Linked DNA regions of Homo sapiens: all the other regions are linked to region 1. The links come from fine-mapping of genetic effects on gene expression. A gene starts in region 1. Each other region holds a variant in brackets. All regions are shown on one strand. Distances are between the middles of the regions. Region 1 holds the start of PLCH1 (phospholipase C eta 1). Region 2 overlaps PLCH1 (phospholipase C eta 1). Region 3 overlaps PLCH1 (phospholipase C eta 1).

The links. PIP is the estimated chance that this variant, and not a neighbour inherited with it, causes the effect. A credible set is the group of variants that fine-mapping cannot tell apart.
Region 2: its variant is the best candidate, but not a certain one, in a credible set for the expression of PLCH1 in prefrontal cortex (CommonMind, PIP 0.70).
Region 3: its variant is the best candidate, but not a certain one, in a credible set for the expression of PLCH1 in cerebellum (GTEx, PIP 0.72).

What each region holds. Positions count from the first base shown.
Region 1 is chr3:155,742,371-155,747,851 of GRCh38, forward strand. PLCH1 (phospholipase C eta 1) reads right to left here and starts at 2,701. Exons shown (of 23, transcript NM_014996.4): 1 at 2,470-2,701. RefSeq lists enhancers at 1,938-2,559, 2,454-2,663.
Region 2 is chr3:155,688,639-155,694,119 of GRCh38, forward strand. All of the region lies in intron 2 of PLCH1 (phospholipase C eta 1), which reads right to left. Among named protein-coding and RNA genes, the nearest start is that of PLCH1, 54 kb to the right of the region's middle. The variant A/G (reference allele first, on the strand shown) is at 2,408.
Region 3 is chr3:155,548,822-155,554,302 of GRCh38, forward strand. It overlaps PLCH1 (phospholipase C eta 1), which reads right to left. Exons shown (of 23, transcript NM_014996.4): 9 at 5,255-5,375; 10 at 966-1,137. Among named protein-coding and RNA genes, the nearest start is that of PLCH1-AS2, 66 kb to the left of the region's middle. The variant C/T (reference allele first, on the strand shown) is at 2,840.

The DNA of each region.
Region 1 (5,481 bases):
TGATGATGTGGGAAAATATATCAAACGGAAGCAATAACTTTAAACAGATTTTATTGCAAATCTGGTGCCACTATAAATCCTCGCTCTGCCCATCAACCTTCCCTCTCTTTGTCTCCTTCCCATTGCCTCTCCCCAGCCTCCCCCAGGTACTCCCAGTCTCATTATCCCATGATCTGTTAAAACTGCAGTTTACCTCCTGGAACCAGCAGAAACACATGTCACTGAGAATTAGGGAATTGGAGCCAGTTACAAGCCACCAAATAGGGTCACAAAGTATCTGAACCTGAAAATTAAGAGTTTTTCTATTTTGCTAAACATGAGAAAAGGGGAAAAACTCAGTTGGACTTATTTTTAAACATTTGAGCTAGATGGATTGCACAATGTTAAGAATTTATGACAAATGAGATGGGAGACAACTTTAACAGCATGTTACTCGCTAATCATTTGAAAAGTGGTATGTTTGATTTCATTTGCTGATGGTGGGAGGATATTATCTTAAAACATCTACCACAAATAAACACTTGCTATTCTTGAAAACAAATTGCTTGAAACTGGTATGTAGCGAGACAGTACTCACGTATTACTTCATCCAAGGTATTTTATGCCACACTTTATCCCAAGAAGAATAACTCCATTTTAAATTTGTATTAGCATTTATGTTAATTCTAACCAATGTTAAATAGCAACTAGGTACCAATCATGCTGCCAAATATTGATGCAGTTTAAGAAAAATAAGCAAGAAGCTACCGCTCCTTCTACATACCCCTTAAGATGTGTACTTTTGCCAAATGCTAGGCTGTATGTAAACAAACGGATTTTAAAAGAGGGGATAGGGCTGTCAAGATTCACAATTTTATGAAAATGAAAATGATTCTCATCTGCTGGGCGCGGTGGCTCACGCCTGTGATCCCCACACTTTGGGAGGCAGAGGTGGGTGGATCACCTGAGGTCAGGAGTTCCAGACCAGCCTGGCCAATATGGTGAAACCCCGTCTCTACTAAAAATACAAAAAATAGCTGGGCGTGGTGGCGGGAGCCTGTAATCCCAGATACTCGGGAGGCTGAGGCAAGAGAATAGCTTGAACCCAGGAGGCGGAGGTTGCAGTGAGCCGAGATCGCACCACTGCACTCCAGCCTGGGCGACAGAGCCAGACTCCGTCTCAAAAAAGAAAAAAAGAAAAAGAAAATGACCAGCTTGAGAAAACTGGCTTCTGTTAAGGCTTCTTGAAGCATTCTCTGCAGAAGACTTTAACCCCAAAGGTGACCAAAACGCTGAGGCAACTGAAAAAAACTACCGCCTCTTCTGGGAAATCCTTTGTTTCTTTTCATTGGCATTATACTCTGGTCCCTTTTGCAGAGCATCTCCTTGTCATAAACATGCCAATAAACAGGACATGGGTGCTGCTGGGTTGTACAAGCTCTGCTCTTCACCTGGGTTAGGAGGCACAGATTTGTTCTTGTAACGCTCGAGAACAATCACTTCACTGAATTTTCTAACTCCTTACCAGGAAGTAAATGTTTTATTCGTCTCCCCTTTTCGGGACAGAGGGGGATTTCAATTGCTGCCCTAATAACTAATCTCTCACCATTTTCTTCTGTCCGTGATCAAAACGGTAACAAGGGAAGGGAAAAGTTGGGTTTTTTTTTTTAATTTAGTTGGTTATTGCTTTAATGCTGAACTCTCAACGTCAAAATGTGATCACAAATTGATTCGCAGAAGGAAACAAATAGAAAAAGCCTCGGGAAGGAGGGGAGAGGGCGTCGCAGACGCTCAACAGGGAACTGGGTTTAGGGGCTCGCGGGGTGGCGTCTCGGACCCGCAGCTCAGTCGCCAAGGAAACGCCGCGCAGGCGCAGAGCGTGCCGCCGCGGGGCCGGGGTTTGCCTCCACCACCCCGCGCCGCTCGGGCGCTCTTGGTTCTTCCCAGGAAAGGGCAATGGAGTATATCCTCCTCGCGCTGAGCACACCTAGTCTCTAAGAGGTCCTGAGCAGGGTCACCGGGCGCAGGAAAAGCTGTGAGACTCCCCAAGTGTAACGGACGCTGCACTCCCCTTGCTGGGAAACGCGGACCTGCTCTCCTGGCGGCGTCTGGCGGTCAGAGAGAGGGTCCCGGGACCCCGCGTGAGGGTGAAGCATCCTGCAGCGAGGCTGGACCTTCCACCGGGCGAAACGCCACCCACCACCACCGCAAGGGACCCGAGAGTTACATTATTTCGCGGACACACACACCCACCCTCATCCTTCTGAATTATGGGACCCTGAAGAGCGGCCGTGGCCAGTTCCCCGCACGGGGCCTTAGGGGATCCCCACGCACAGCACTCACAGTCCTAAACAGGCGTGTGCCGGCTGTGGCTGCCGAGAAAGGAACTTGGGCCACCTGCTCACTCGCTCATCGGACTGGCGTACCAGTTCTCTTTTTCCTGCACACCCCCTTCTCTCCTGGGCCCCTTCTTCCCCCGAAAGCACTGACCTCCTCAGCTTTGAGTGTTCAGTAGCTGAAGGACTCCTCGGAGTCCGTGGCACAAGGAGCCACCTCCGAAGTGCTGGGGTGATGAGTTATTGGCCCCTGTGACTCCAACTCCAAACCCCTGCCAAGGGCCAGAAAAGCCCCCCTAGAAGAGCACTTCTCCCCACTAGCCAGCAGAAGCCCCAGACGAGCGGGGAAGAGCAGGGCGCCGCCGCCACAACCTGCTTTCTCATTCAAATCCTCACGCTCACACAGGAGCCCCCCTCCCTCTCGGCCCCGCAGCTTCCGAGGAAATCAGGAACTGGAGTTGCGGAGAGCGGACTGGAGCGCCTGCTGCCTCCTCTGGCCCGGGCGGGATGGGTGTACGGAACCCTAGGGCTGCACGTGGAACCCCAAGGCTGCACCTGGAACCCTTGGCTTACACTCTCCTGCGGGGCTCCCCGCTTGGCAAGGGCCAGAAGCACTGGGAATGAAGTACTTTTACTCCCCCGCAAGTTTCAAAAGTTTCGAAACCCAGGGTAACCCCTCGGGGCTGTAGCCAGAGGGCCTCGGTGGTGGGGGGTAAAGGAGTTGGAGAAACAAAGTTGGAAGTGAAGGGCGCAGGGAATGGGAACTGCGTGCAACTTGCACCAAAGTGAAAAGTGTTCTCAAACGTCCGTCTTACCTCCTTTAAAAAAAAAAAATTTCTAAGAATATAGCATCTGTCGATGCCGCAAATTAAAGAGATCTACTCTGAGTGAATGGGAACTGCGTGCAACTTGCACCAAAGTAAAAAGTGTTCTCAAACGCCCGTCTTACCTCCTTTAAAAAAAAAAAATTTCTAAGAATATAGCATCTGTCGATGCCGCAAATTAAAGAGATCTACTCTGAGTGAAGTGCAACTAAAATTGAGAGCGTGTAAATGGTAACACTTTGCTTTTATTTACCCCCAGTCTCTTCATTTGGAAATGCTACTCCTTGGCATTAACAGGCCACTTATTCACTTAGATCCGTTTAGTGGCTGGTTGACTCAAGCGGGCAACCTGCCGGGAGTAAGAAGGCGGCGGTGGCAGAGGAAAGCTTGCACGAAGCAGGCACTCAAGTGTTGATGAAACGATGAAATCTACTGAATGCACTGAAAGGATGAGTGACCAGCTTGGGGCGGATGCTGGAACCGCCGCTGGCCTAGACGGCCGCGGTGTGATCCGGCTTCTGGATTCCAGGATTTACATTTATCAGCCTTCATTCAACCTGCCCTATTGTTAGTTCAAAGCCTGGCTGGGAAGGAGTGGGGACGCAGCTCTTCACTCACCTTTCAGTTTAAAATAATCCTCCAATAAGAATGTCCTAGGAAAGCTGGCAGCATGGGGTTGGCAGGGATTTTCTGGGCTTAGTGACAACATAAACTAAAGTCATTTTCTTTTTTCATGCGTGAATTTGCCCAGGAAGTTACAAACGAGTAAGTTACAAATGAGTGCCTGAGATTGGAGCTCAGGGCCTTGGCTGCCTGTTCTCTTTGACAGACAGTGTGGAGGGTGGTAGCACTGTGACCTCTCAGCGCAAGATCTAGGGTTTCACCTTTTCATCCCACTTAGCCGATACCATAGAAACAACCCATTTGTATTATTCAATTCAACAGAGGCAATTACAATGTCACAGCAAAGCACCATGGGCAAGAAGAAACTTTGTCCTGAAAACAATCCTAGACTCTCAGAAAAAAGAAAAAAGCCACCAGAATACCCACTTGAATTTCTTCCTGCCAATAGTACCAGGAAGAAATCAATTTGGAAAAAATGTAGGTAAGGTCCTTTGCCTCTATAGAAAGAAACCTCCCCAAATTTACTTGTTTTTGTTTTTGTTTTTTTGCATGCCCATACACAAGCCTCAATTTATAAGAAATTAAGTCATTAACCCTCTGCCTCCAAACTGCTTTATATTTTGTAAACAAGCTTGTTGGAGATTTGTTTTGCTGGTAACCTCCATGGTGAATAGAAAAGCCAAAAAAAAAAAAAAAAAAAAAAAAACCACCAAGATAATCCCTCAACAGCAGCAGTTCACCCCCTAACCTCCGGTGTTTGTCTTTCTTGAGTCTGAAAAAATGCAGATGCACATGTTGAAATAAACTCAGACACAAAGTTCATAATAAGAGCACTTGTTTGCTATGCATTCTTTATTTTGATAGTTTTAATCAACTCCCATAATTTTGTAAACTTTTAAATTTTTAAATTGTGTGATATTTCAAACCTACCAAAAACAGGATATATACCATGTAATACTCCTGCTCCCCCCAGCCCTTCTTTTTTAAATAAAGCATTACAGATATAGCTAAACCCCAACTCCTGACTCGTTACCCCCACCCCTTCCCAAAGGTAATAATTCTGAAGTTGGTATGAATCATAATTATGCATGTTCTTAAATGTTTAGGACATTTATACATCCATAATCTTTTAATGTAGCTTTTCTCTCCAAGTCGTTTTAACATTATTTATCTGAGAAAAATCACTAAAACAATTAATTAATTAATTGGAGAAAATCACTAAAAACAAGAAAATGTGTTACATTGCTAAGTTTTTAGAAGCAGGACAGAACTATTTTTCCTGCTTGTGACAATCAGAGTATGGAATAATAACAAAGGGATTAGACAGTGGGTAATAAGCAGCCTCTCTAGGTTACACAAACTCTTCCATGGTTACCAAAGAATAAATAGAAAAACAAAACAAATAATACCCTCCTCTTTCACTGGTTAAAGGGGAACTGGAGAAAATGAGATCTTCATTAAAACTTCTTTGGGCAGGTAAGACAAACATCCTACATGGTAGTAAAGTACCTTTTCTAGAGGATCTCTTGGTCATGCAAGCTATGATCTTTTAGTAAGGATTTACCACTTTTCCAAGTATAAAGAACTCCTGCTGGTAGCTCAATACAAGGTTGAAATCCGCCTGGCTGAAAAGTCTGGGGTTGAATTAGCCCTGCCTCTTCAAGCACAGGGACATCCATCTGTACAGTAGTTACAAAAATCTTTTGCTGTGATTCTTT
Region 2 (5,481 bases), 54 kb before region 1:
CGCCCTGGGCCAGAAGGGAGTCCACTGCCTTGAAGGGTGGGTCCCAGGCCTGTCAGCATTCACCACTGCTGATGGAAGAGCCCTTGGACTTTAAGTGAACACAGACAGGGGCCTAGCAGAAAGCCCCCATGGACCAGTGGTAGCGGGTGGCCACAGAGAAAGGCTCCTCTGCCTGTGGAAAGGGGAGGGAAGAGCAGGAAGAACTTTGTATTGTGGCCTGAGTGCCAGCTTAGCCGCTGTAGAATAGAACATCAGGTAAATTGCTAAAGTTTTTTACTTCAATCCCTGGCTCCCAGACAGCATCGCTGGACATGCCTGGGGCCGGGGGGGATCTTGCCATCCTGAAGGGAAGGGCCTAGGGCAAGTCCCAGTCAGTGCCATGCTGGCTTCAGGTCTCACCCAGCACAGTCCCAGTGGTTGTGATTACAGGGGTGCTTGCATCACCACCCTCCCAGCTCCCCAGTGGCTCAGCAAAGAAAAAGAGAGACTCTATATGTTTGGGAAAAGTAAGGGAAAAAGAACAGGAGTCTGCCTGGTAATCTAGAAAATTCTTCCAGATCTTATCTAAGACCACCAAGGTGATAACTCTACGAGTCTGAAAAAAACACAGCATTATTGGACTTGGGACCCAAGTCTCTTTTAATACCTGAAAGTCTTTCCAAGAAGAACAGGCACAAACAAGTTTAGACCGTGAAGACTACAATAAACACCTAACTCTTCAATGCCCAAACACCAAAGAACATCTACCAGCATCAGCATCATCCAAGAAAACATGACCTTACCAAATAAACTAAATAAGCCACCAGGGACCAATTCTGGAGAAACAGAGATATATGACCTTTCACATAGAGAATTCAAAATGGCTGTTTTGAGGAAAAGTCAGAGAAATTCAAGATAACACAGAGAAGGAACTCAGAATTCTATCAGATATACTTTAAAAGAAGGTTGAAATAATTAAAAAGAACCAGCAGAAATTCTAGAGTTGAAAAATACAGTTGACGTGATGAAGAATCTTTTAATAGCAGAATTGATCAAGCAGAAGAAAGGATTAGTGAGCTTAAAGACAGGCTATTTGAAAACACATAGTCAGAGGAGAAAAACAGAAAAAAGAATAACAAGCAATGAAGCACACCTATAGGATCTAAAAAATAGCCTCAAAAGGGCAAATCTAAAAGTTATTGGCCTTAAAGAGGAAGTAGAGAGACAGAAGTAGAAAGTTTATTCAAAGAGATAATATCAGAGAAATTCCTAAACCTAGGAAAAGATATCAACATTCAAGTACAAGAAGGTTAAGGAACACAAAGCAGATTTAACCCAAATAAGACTATCTCAAAGCATTTAATAATCAAACTCCCAAAGGTCAAGGATGAAGAAAGGATCCTAAAAGCAGCAAGAGAAAAAAAAGAATAAAAAAAAAAAAAAGAAAAGAACATACAATGCAGCGCCAATACGTCTTGCAGCAGACTTTTCAGTGGGAACCTTACAAGCCAGGAGAGAGTAGCATGACATATTTAAAGTGTTGACAGAAAAAACTTTTACCTTAGAATTAACTTTGCCACTAGCTGGTTGCTATCAATATGTACCAGTCACTTACCTTCTCATCTATAAAAGGAGAGTGGTTTTACTCAGAGGTTTATAATTCACAAAAAGGGTAAGGAATAACAGATTATTCTGAAATATAATGAAAGCTAAGGACTTTGTTCAAAGGAAGAGGATGCACAAATGTACATGCATATCTACATAGAGTATCTAGCATAATGTTTGCAAAAATTTCATAAGTGTCCTGAAGCCTGGCTATGGGTTTTGCTCAGAATCCCTTAATCAGAGGGCTCCCCTAGTCCTTGCTATTATAGATCAGGGTATTACGTATATCCTTGACTATATCTTCATATGTTTTAGACACAGAGATTCAAATTTTTAAGCCCATTGTACAAAGAAAATTACCTGCCAATTCATAGCCCTCATGTTTCCTCCTTGGGAATCTGAGTATCAGGATACTGCTGGGGGTCTTGGTCATCAGCTGTGCTCCTTACACACAAGTTTCCAACCTCTCAATGCTTTGTATGATGAAAAACAGTTCTCTTCTCCCTCACACCCATCCTTTTTCCATGTGCTCCTTGGAGAATAGGACAAATTCCTCACTCCAGAGGACTAATACCCAAGCCCGGTGGTCTCCTAAAGCAATGCTGCTCATACTTAATCATCTGAGGACCTTGTTAAAATGCAGATTCTGGCTCAGAAGTTCCCTGGTGGGGCTGAGAGTCTGCATTTTTAACAAGCTCCCAGGGACCACTCCAGTGGACACCAACTCTTAGCCCTCACCCCTAGTTCCTCAGCCCCCTCCCCACACTCAGCCTAAGGGCAACTCACACTGTGTCTCTAGAAGTTCTCTAGTAGCCTTTGAAGA[A/G]AGGGTGTTACAGCTCTTTTAAAACACAAACCCACCCCCTCAGCAGCTTTAAAAGAAACAAGTTTGTGTAATGCATTGCTGTGTCACAATAGTGGAAAAACCCTGGATTTGAGAGTCTGACAAACCTAGGTTTGAACTCCATAATCTAACAATGTGACTTGTGGCAAATTGTGATTTCTGTGAGTTTCATCTGTAAAATAGTCTTGTTGAGAGACTTAAAAGAGGTAATGCTACTCCAAAGACAACCTTGACTTAGCATCAACCTAACATTTCCTAATGATCCCTCAAGAATATTCTAACATAGAGTCCACCAATTCCTCCCGACAAGGTCTAAACTCAGTTATAGCAACAACCGTCTCAAATTCCTCTTTGTGTTCCCCTTAAGATCCTATATGCAAAGCCGGAGATATTGTGCAAAACAAGAGCAATCTGAGAAGGCAAGGTTTCTTCTTCACAACTCTGAGACTTCTAGGAATAACACAGAGAACCTGAGCATCAGTTTTCTCACATGTAGCGTAACAGAGGTAGAGCAGATATCTACAGGGACTGACACAGCTTGCCTTCCACAACAAAATGCACAGGGGTCTCTAAGTCTCTGGATACCACTTAGTTTTCCAAAGTAGACAAATAAACACAATTCTAGTTAATATTTAAGGTTGCATCTGATATACTCCAAATGATGGCATTGTTCTCTCAATTCCTGCATTTCATATTTCTTTCTGTGCCAATTCTTCAAATTATCCTACTGTGAACTGTGTAGTTCTCATCATAGATTAATCAAAACAAAACACTATTAATATGTTCTTTGTTATCTGTTGTTAAGGACCTTCCCAAAGTATTTCTACTTATCATCAGAAGACCGTGTACAACATTGTGAGGTCAATTAGTGCTCAAAGAATCGCTTGAACCCAGGAGGTGGAGGTTGCAGTGAGCCAAGATTGCACCACTGCACTCCAACCTGGCAACAGAGCGAGACTCTGTCTAAAAAAAAAAAAAAATTAGTGCTCAAAGGTATATCTTTGTATCATGATATCATGTATCAATATATCTGTTGATATATTGGTAGTAAAGTTAAGGCAAATCACATTTTAAGGACACTAAGAAAGCCTATTAAAGGAAATATGAAATAAATTTGTTACAAAAAAGGAAAATAACCATATGAAGGTCAGCATATCACTTCCCCCTTCCTCTCTGCAAATAGTCTATAAAGTCAAGATTTTCATGTACCACTTTTGCCCAAACTAGTGTACAATTATATGCTGTATTAAATCAGTAAACTCATACCTGATTTTGTGTACTGATCAAATCAATACTTTAGTCAACCAACAACTTCAATGCAGTGATTTTTATCCCTCCCATGTCATCAAAATCACCTGAAGATAGATAAATATACAGATAAAGAATGAATGAATGAATGGATGGATGGATGGATGGATGGATGGAAACATCTGGGTCCCATGTTCCAGAGATGATTTACCTGGGCTTGGGTTGAGTCCAACCATCATTGTTTTTGTTTTGTTTTGTTTTGTTTTAACTTGGTAGCTGGGCACTTACCACAGCAACATCTTGTTCCGTACTGTTGCCTGCTTCTTGGGAATACCTTGCTTTTCCTACTCTCTCCCGTAGCTGCCTGTGGTTATCACAGCAAGGATTCTCTGAGCCTCATTCTCCTCATTAGCGAAATGAGGATAATATTAGTCCCTCCAATCATTAGCAATTTTTTTTTTTTTGAGATGAGTCTCGCTCTGTCGCCCAGGCTAGAGTGCAGTGGCGCCATCTCCGCTCACTGCAAGCTCCGCCTTCCTGGTTCACGCCATTCTCCTGCCTCAGCCTCCTCAGAATAGCTGGGATCTCCTGCCTCAGAGTAGCTGGGACTACAGGCGCACGCTGCCACGCCCGGCTAAGTTTTTGTATTTTTAGTAGAGACGGGGTTTCACCGTGTTAACCAGGATGGTCTCGATCTCCTGACCTCGTGATCTGCCCGCCTCGGCCTCCCAAAGTGCTGGGATTACAGGCGTGCGCCCGGCCTAATCATCAGCATTTTTTAAAAAGCACCCTAGCAGATTCAAATGTATAACCAGATATGAGAATCACTACTTAGTCAATGGTTTTTAAATCACTTTAAGAAAGCACAGACTTGCCGGGCGCGGTGGCTCACGCCTGTAATCCCAGCACTTTGGGAGGCCGAGGCGGGTGGATCATGAGGTCAGGAGATCGAGACCATCCTGGCTAACAAGGTGAAACCCCGTCTCTACTAAAAATACAAAAAATTAGCCGGGCGCGGTGGCGGGCGCCTGTAGTCCCAGCTACTCGGGAGGCTGAGGCAGGAGAATGGCGTGAACCCGGGAAGCGGAGCTTGCAGTGAGCCGAGATTGCGCCACTGCAGTCCGCAGTCCGACCTGGGCGACAGAGCGAGACTCCGTCTCAAAAAAAAAAAAAAAAAAAAAAAAGAAAGCACAGACTTAAAACACATTATTGAGATTATAGACTATTTTTCCCATCTTTACTCTTTTCTATGCTTTCCAAATTTTCTACAGTGAACCTGTGTTGCTATCATCAGAAAAAATAAAGTGAAAAAATATTTTTAAAGAAAAACAGCAGCGGCTGGATGTGGTGGCTCATGCCTGTAATCCCAACACTTTGGGAGGCCAAGGAGGGTGGATCACCTGGGGTCATGAGTTCGAGACCAGCCTGGTCAACATGGTGAAACCCCGTCTCAACTAAAAATACAAAAATTAACCAGGCATGGTGGTGTGCACCTGTAATCCCAGCTCCTTGAGAGGCTGAGGCAGGGGAATCACTTGAACCCGGGAGGCAGAGGTTGCAGTAAGCCAAGATGGGGCCATCGCACTCCAGCCTGGGCCTCAGGAGCGAAACTCTGTCTTAAAAAAAAAAGAAAGAAAGAAAAGAAAAGAAAAACAGCAGCTACAAATTCCCAAGCATAGATGATTCTTCTATATTTTCCTGCTTAATTTATATTCAAATACTGTATTTCTATCCATGTCCTTCTTTTTTAATGCTCCCCCTTCCCTGCCCTTCAAGATTCAGTATAAAATAGACTATCATCACAGAAA
Region 3 (5,481 bases), 190 kb before region 1:
TATTTAATTGGTAGAAAACAGGTTTTGACCAATTCTAAGAATGAATATGTTCCATCTTTTCCATGTGCTGCTCTCCCTTAAAGCCCCAGTTGAAGTCCTGCCATGAAATTACATTGCCTCCTTGACTTTCCTGCTCCTCCTATATATTTGTTTTTTCATACACACCTCTTTTAAGTAAAATATAACCCAGTTTGAATTTTAATACCCTATTGCTTTCCTTTACATTTTTAATCACAAAATGATGTGGCCACCCAAGGTGGTTTTAGTACAAACACACAAAATTCACTGGAAATAAGTAAAACCACAAAGTCAGTGATCTGAAAACTGAAAGAACTGTCTTTCTGGCTATTCTTTGCATGAATAATATTTATTGTAGTAAGCTTCCTCTCTCAGAAAATCTGTTTATGAAATGTCATTCTGTTCACCTACTGCTCTTTCACACGTACATGAGTCCTGTGGGGCATTATTATGTCTGTGCCTGTGTTCCTCTTTGAAGTGAGCTCTTCTCACTTGCATAACCAAGACTGATCAACCATGAAGCTTTTTGTTTTTTTTGGTTTTTTTGACAGACAGTTATTGGAGCTTGAAATGGGAGAAAAAGTCTGAAAGAACTGCTTTCAGATATGGATACAAGGAGCCTTCTCCTTTCCTGAACCTCACGCTCCTACACACACATTTCTCTCTAGTGTGAACTATTACAGACTAAAATATCAAACATTTGGCTTACAGTATTGATGTTTCCACTTCATAAGTACAAATCTCAGAATATGTGCTCACTCAACAATAAGCTTCTTCTGAAGACACGACTATAAAAAAATTGGAATAAGGCGCATACATAGATCTAGACAATCCTTCATATATTGATTCTAATTATTATTCTCCCTTGAAACCCATTTTTATTCTTTAAGGGAGGGCAGGCTTAGCTGATAATGAATGTCTTTTATTGCATTACTTGAAGTAATTACCTTCACTAGAATTTTGCCTTTCAAACTTTGAGGGCTTGGAAGCTGCTTGCACTCCCCTGTATCAACAGATGACAGGTCCAGTTTGTCTCCGAATATTCCTTTCAGGTACTGAGCAATCTTCCTTTGCTGCTGGATACTGCAGTGATTCTCGATAGACAATATAACAGGAAACCTGAGAAAAGAGCAACACAGTCCAGAGGCGTCAGGTGCAGGCAACTCACAGGGACTTTTGAAAATGATTCAGTATTCACTGTGTTGTTACAATCCTAGTGACAGTATTTGCGATACTGATGATGGTTAAAATGCTTCTAAAATGAGAAAGATTAGAAATGCATTTAAAAAATTCCTCTGAGCAAATATACTTTGCTAAGCATAATGGATGAACAAAATACCAATCCACATGGGATGGCTTTTCTAATATTTTGCATCAGGAAACAATGGTAGATATATTATGTTTCTTTTAAAAGAAGAGAAAATTTTAAAAGAGATGAGAAGTCTAAAGAAAGTAAACTCATATAATGTAATTTTGTCTTATTTATTCAAAAGTCTAACAGCTTCTAAGAGACCACTGAATGTCATTAAATGAAGCTATTGACTCTAAAATATATAATTAACCCCCACCTTGAAAATTATGATTGAGGATAAAATAACATAAGGGAATTCTGTGTTTTATAGCATCCTACGTCGCACATTTCAAAATCACTTTGATAGAATTATATACTAGTCTTTGTCAAAAAATAAAAATAAAAACCAGCCAAGCATTCATTCTACACCAGCACTCAGGTTTCTGCACAGAAAACATGAGATCCATGTAAATAATTACCTAAAGGAGTTGGTGGCTAAGGCAGAAAGGAGATCAGGGCTGATTACATGATTTTACTCCTCTCTCAACCTTATTTTTTCCTCAGAATAAGAAATTATTTCAAATTCAGGTTCATTGACTTTTTTCTAGTTTTCCGTTACATGTCTTCAGACATAATAGGCAATATATTTAAATCACCTAATATATCAACATATACCAATATTTAAATCACCTAATATATCAATGTGCAGAAAAACTTTTTCCAGGCTTTCATGACAAGCACAAGTTCCACAATACGGGCTATGACCGCCAGACCTACCTTCTCTCCTCATTAGTAAAACCTGATGCTGTGGGCCATCTTACAGATGAGCCTTTGTGGCTGAGGTAGGTTTCCTTACTCGACTACAATCTGTTTGCTATTCATTTCTTCACATAGGTTTTACCCTAAAGTGCTAGAAGAGGGAAAAGCAACAGCAACAACAAACTGACAACCCTGAGTTGTCCTGCAGTCACATCAGGGAGTTTTAACAAGGAATTTTCACATTGTCAATTCATTTACAAAAAATCTATTAGTGGCAGGGAGTGGTGGCTCATGCCTGTAATCCCAGCACTTTGGGAGGCCGAAGCAGGCAGATCACTTGAGGCCAGGAGTTCGAGACCAGCCTGGGCAATATAGTGAAACACTGTCTCTACTAAAAATACAAAAATTAGCCAGGCATTGTGGCACGTGCCGGTAATCCCAGATACTCAGGAGGCTGAGGCAAGAGAATCGCTTGAACCCAGGAGGCGGAGGTTGCAGTGAGCTGAGATCATGCCACTGCACTCCAGCATGGGCGACAGAGCAAGGCTGCCTCAGAAAAAAAAAAAAAAAAAAAAAAAAAAAAAAAAAAAAGCCTAATTAGTGCTTGATGATGTTTAGTGTAAAGCTGTGCTTCTCAACAGGGAACGAGGCAATTATTCCCCCCAGTACAGGAGACGCTTGTCAATATCTGAAGACATTTTTGGTGGTCACACTTCAGGGGTGCTATTGGCACATAATGAATAGAAGCTGAGGATGTTGCTTTCCACCCTA[C/T]GCTGCACAGGACAGCTCTCTACCAAAAAAAAAAAAAAAAAAAAAAAATTATCAGTACACAATGTCATTAGTGCCAAGGTTGAGAAACCCTGATATAAAGATGCAACCAAAGTTAAGAAAGGAGAGGAAAAGGCTGAACTTTTAAAATGTACTAAACAAGTTTATTAACTCTTTTAATTTGAAGTGCTTTTCTTCTAAGAGTTCCCAAACTTGAAGTAAATTGTCAAATCACCAGAGGATCTTCCAAGATACATAGGTGGCAGGCCTTCTCAACACCCTACTTCATACATTGGGAAATAAAGGCAAAATTACTTCACCCATTTGGCTAGGACCTGTAGAAATCAGGGTTGTAAAGACCCATTAGAATGCAGTGTTCAAGATTCTTCCACGTGGGAGGCATCATAAACTAAATCTGCTATACAGCAAGTGTGTCTTATTAGAAAAGCATTTTTAACCTCATGTTTAATTAATGAGAAGACCAAATATTGGAAATTTTAAAGGCTACTAACTTCTAAAAAATTAATTTTACACAATTGTAATTTTAATTTGTTTCCTTTAATTCAAAAATCCTTTCTTGAATAGCTGGTATACTGAAGGTACCTGCTAGGCAACAAAAATGAATACAAAATAATAAGAGATTGCTCATATTTTCAGTGAGTTCACAGTCTTACAGATGTAAAAGAAGGCAAGTAACCAACCAATTGCAAGAGGGTGCTATATGATATGACAGAAATATGTGCAGGGTGCTAAATACAGAGAAAATATGGAGAAAAAGAAGATTTAAATCAGCTGGTGGTATTAGTAACTTGTTGGAGGGACAATACTTAAACGGCCTTGTAGAATAAGCAACAATTAATCAGATAGACTAACGGGGAAGGTTGTTCCAGGCAGAGAGAACAGCATACGTAAGAGTGGGGAGTTGAGAAAGAGCCAGGCTCAATAGGGAAGCTGAAAGACAGTCATTGAAGGCAGAATCCTAAATCTCTGTGGAATAATGGTGGAAGATGATAGTGGAAGACAAGGGAGATGCCAGACCTTAAGGGATATGAAGACATGCCTGTGTATTGAGAGAGCTTCTGACAGGCTTTAAGACAAGAATTGAATCACCATGCTCATATTTCAGAAAGAAAATTATAGCACCAGTGTTGAGGATGAACCAAAGGGGAAATAAAAATGAACAGGAGGCAATGGAGTCAAAAGATAACTTGGGAAGTAGAATTGCCAAGAATTGGTTGAGTCTAGAATGACTCCCAGTTTCTGGCTGAGGCCAGTGCTGCCCCTAACTATTAATAAGAGGAAATGGAGCGAGAATCAAGAGGAAGTTTGGCAGAATGAGATGCTGAGTTCCCCTTGGGGAGTAAGCTCCTTAATGGCAGGAGTCTTATCTTCTGCTCACTGTTGTGGCTCCCCACACCTATGGGATACTCAGATGAATATTCACTGAGGATTTTTATTTTTATTTTTATTTTTCTGAGATGGAGTCTCACTCTGTCACCCAGGCTGGAGTGCAGTGGTGCAATCTCAGCTCACTACAACCTCCACCTTCTGGGTTCAAGCAAATCTCATGCCTCAGCCTCCCAAGTAGCTGGGATTACAGATGTGTACCACTACATCCACCTAATACTTGTATTTTTTTAGTAGAGACAGGGCTTCGCCATGTTGACCAGGCTGGTCTCAAACTCCTGGCCTCACGTGATCCACCCTCCTCAGCCTCCCAAAGTGCTACAGGAGCCACCGTGCCCGGCCTCACTGAGTATGTTTCAACATGGGCCTAGAACTTGAGGGGAAAGTTCTGGACATAGAATTTGATAAATATCCAGAAAGTGATCTAGGGCAAAACCTTAGAAAACAGTTAACCATTAGAGGAATGAGGAAATAGATTAACAGAAGACTGCAGTACAAAAAAAAGAGATTGAGAAGCAACGAGAGCAATGGAGGGGAGAATGATATAATGGAAACCAAAAAAGGCAAGTAGTGGGGAGGAAATATTCAACACTGTCAAATGACAAGGAGAGGGTCAAGTAACATAAGGACTCCAGACACCTCAGTGTATAGATAAGACATCCATCATGATCAGAACCCACTAATTATGTACACAGTAACCTATGTTTCCAGATTTTATGGACACTCTACACCCTGGATTTAGAAATTTAGAGGTCACTATTTGCAAGAATGTCTTTAAGGAGGCATATTGAGAAAGAATGGGACAAGGAATAAATGCAGCATGAGAAAGTACAAACGGGAAGGCCACATTATTTGTTCACAATGTTTTGCTGAGAAGGAGGGAGAAAACTAGTCTAGCAAAGAGGGCAGTGTAGAGTCCAAGGAAGAGGATGTGGTTTTGTAGCTACGTTACATCAGGCAATGCTCCATGCGGGAGGCTACCGCTTAGCTCACAGGTGCTGCTTTACTTACTCATTCTTCACAAAGGCATGCTTGTTGATGGTCTCCACAACATCTCTGAAGAGAATTTTTGAAGTGAGAGTGTAACCATGATGTACTACTGGCTCTCCATCTGGGCCATCCCAACAGTCAACTGCCAAAAACAGAACTTTATATCAACAACCCAAAGTCTCTGGTGTTTATTAATATTTCTGGAAATACCAGACACATATTAAGTCCATTATCTGAAATTATACCCA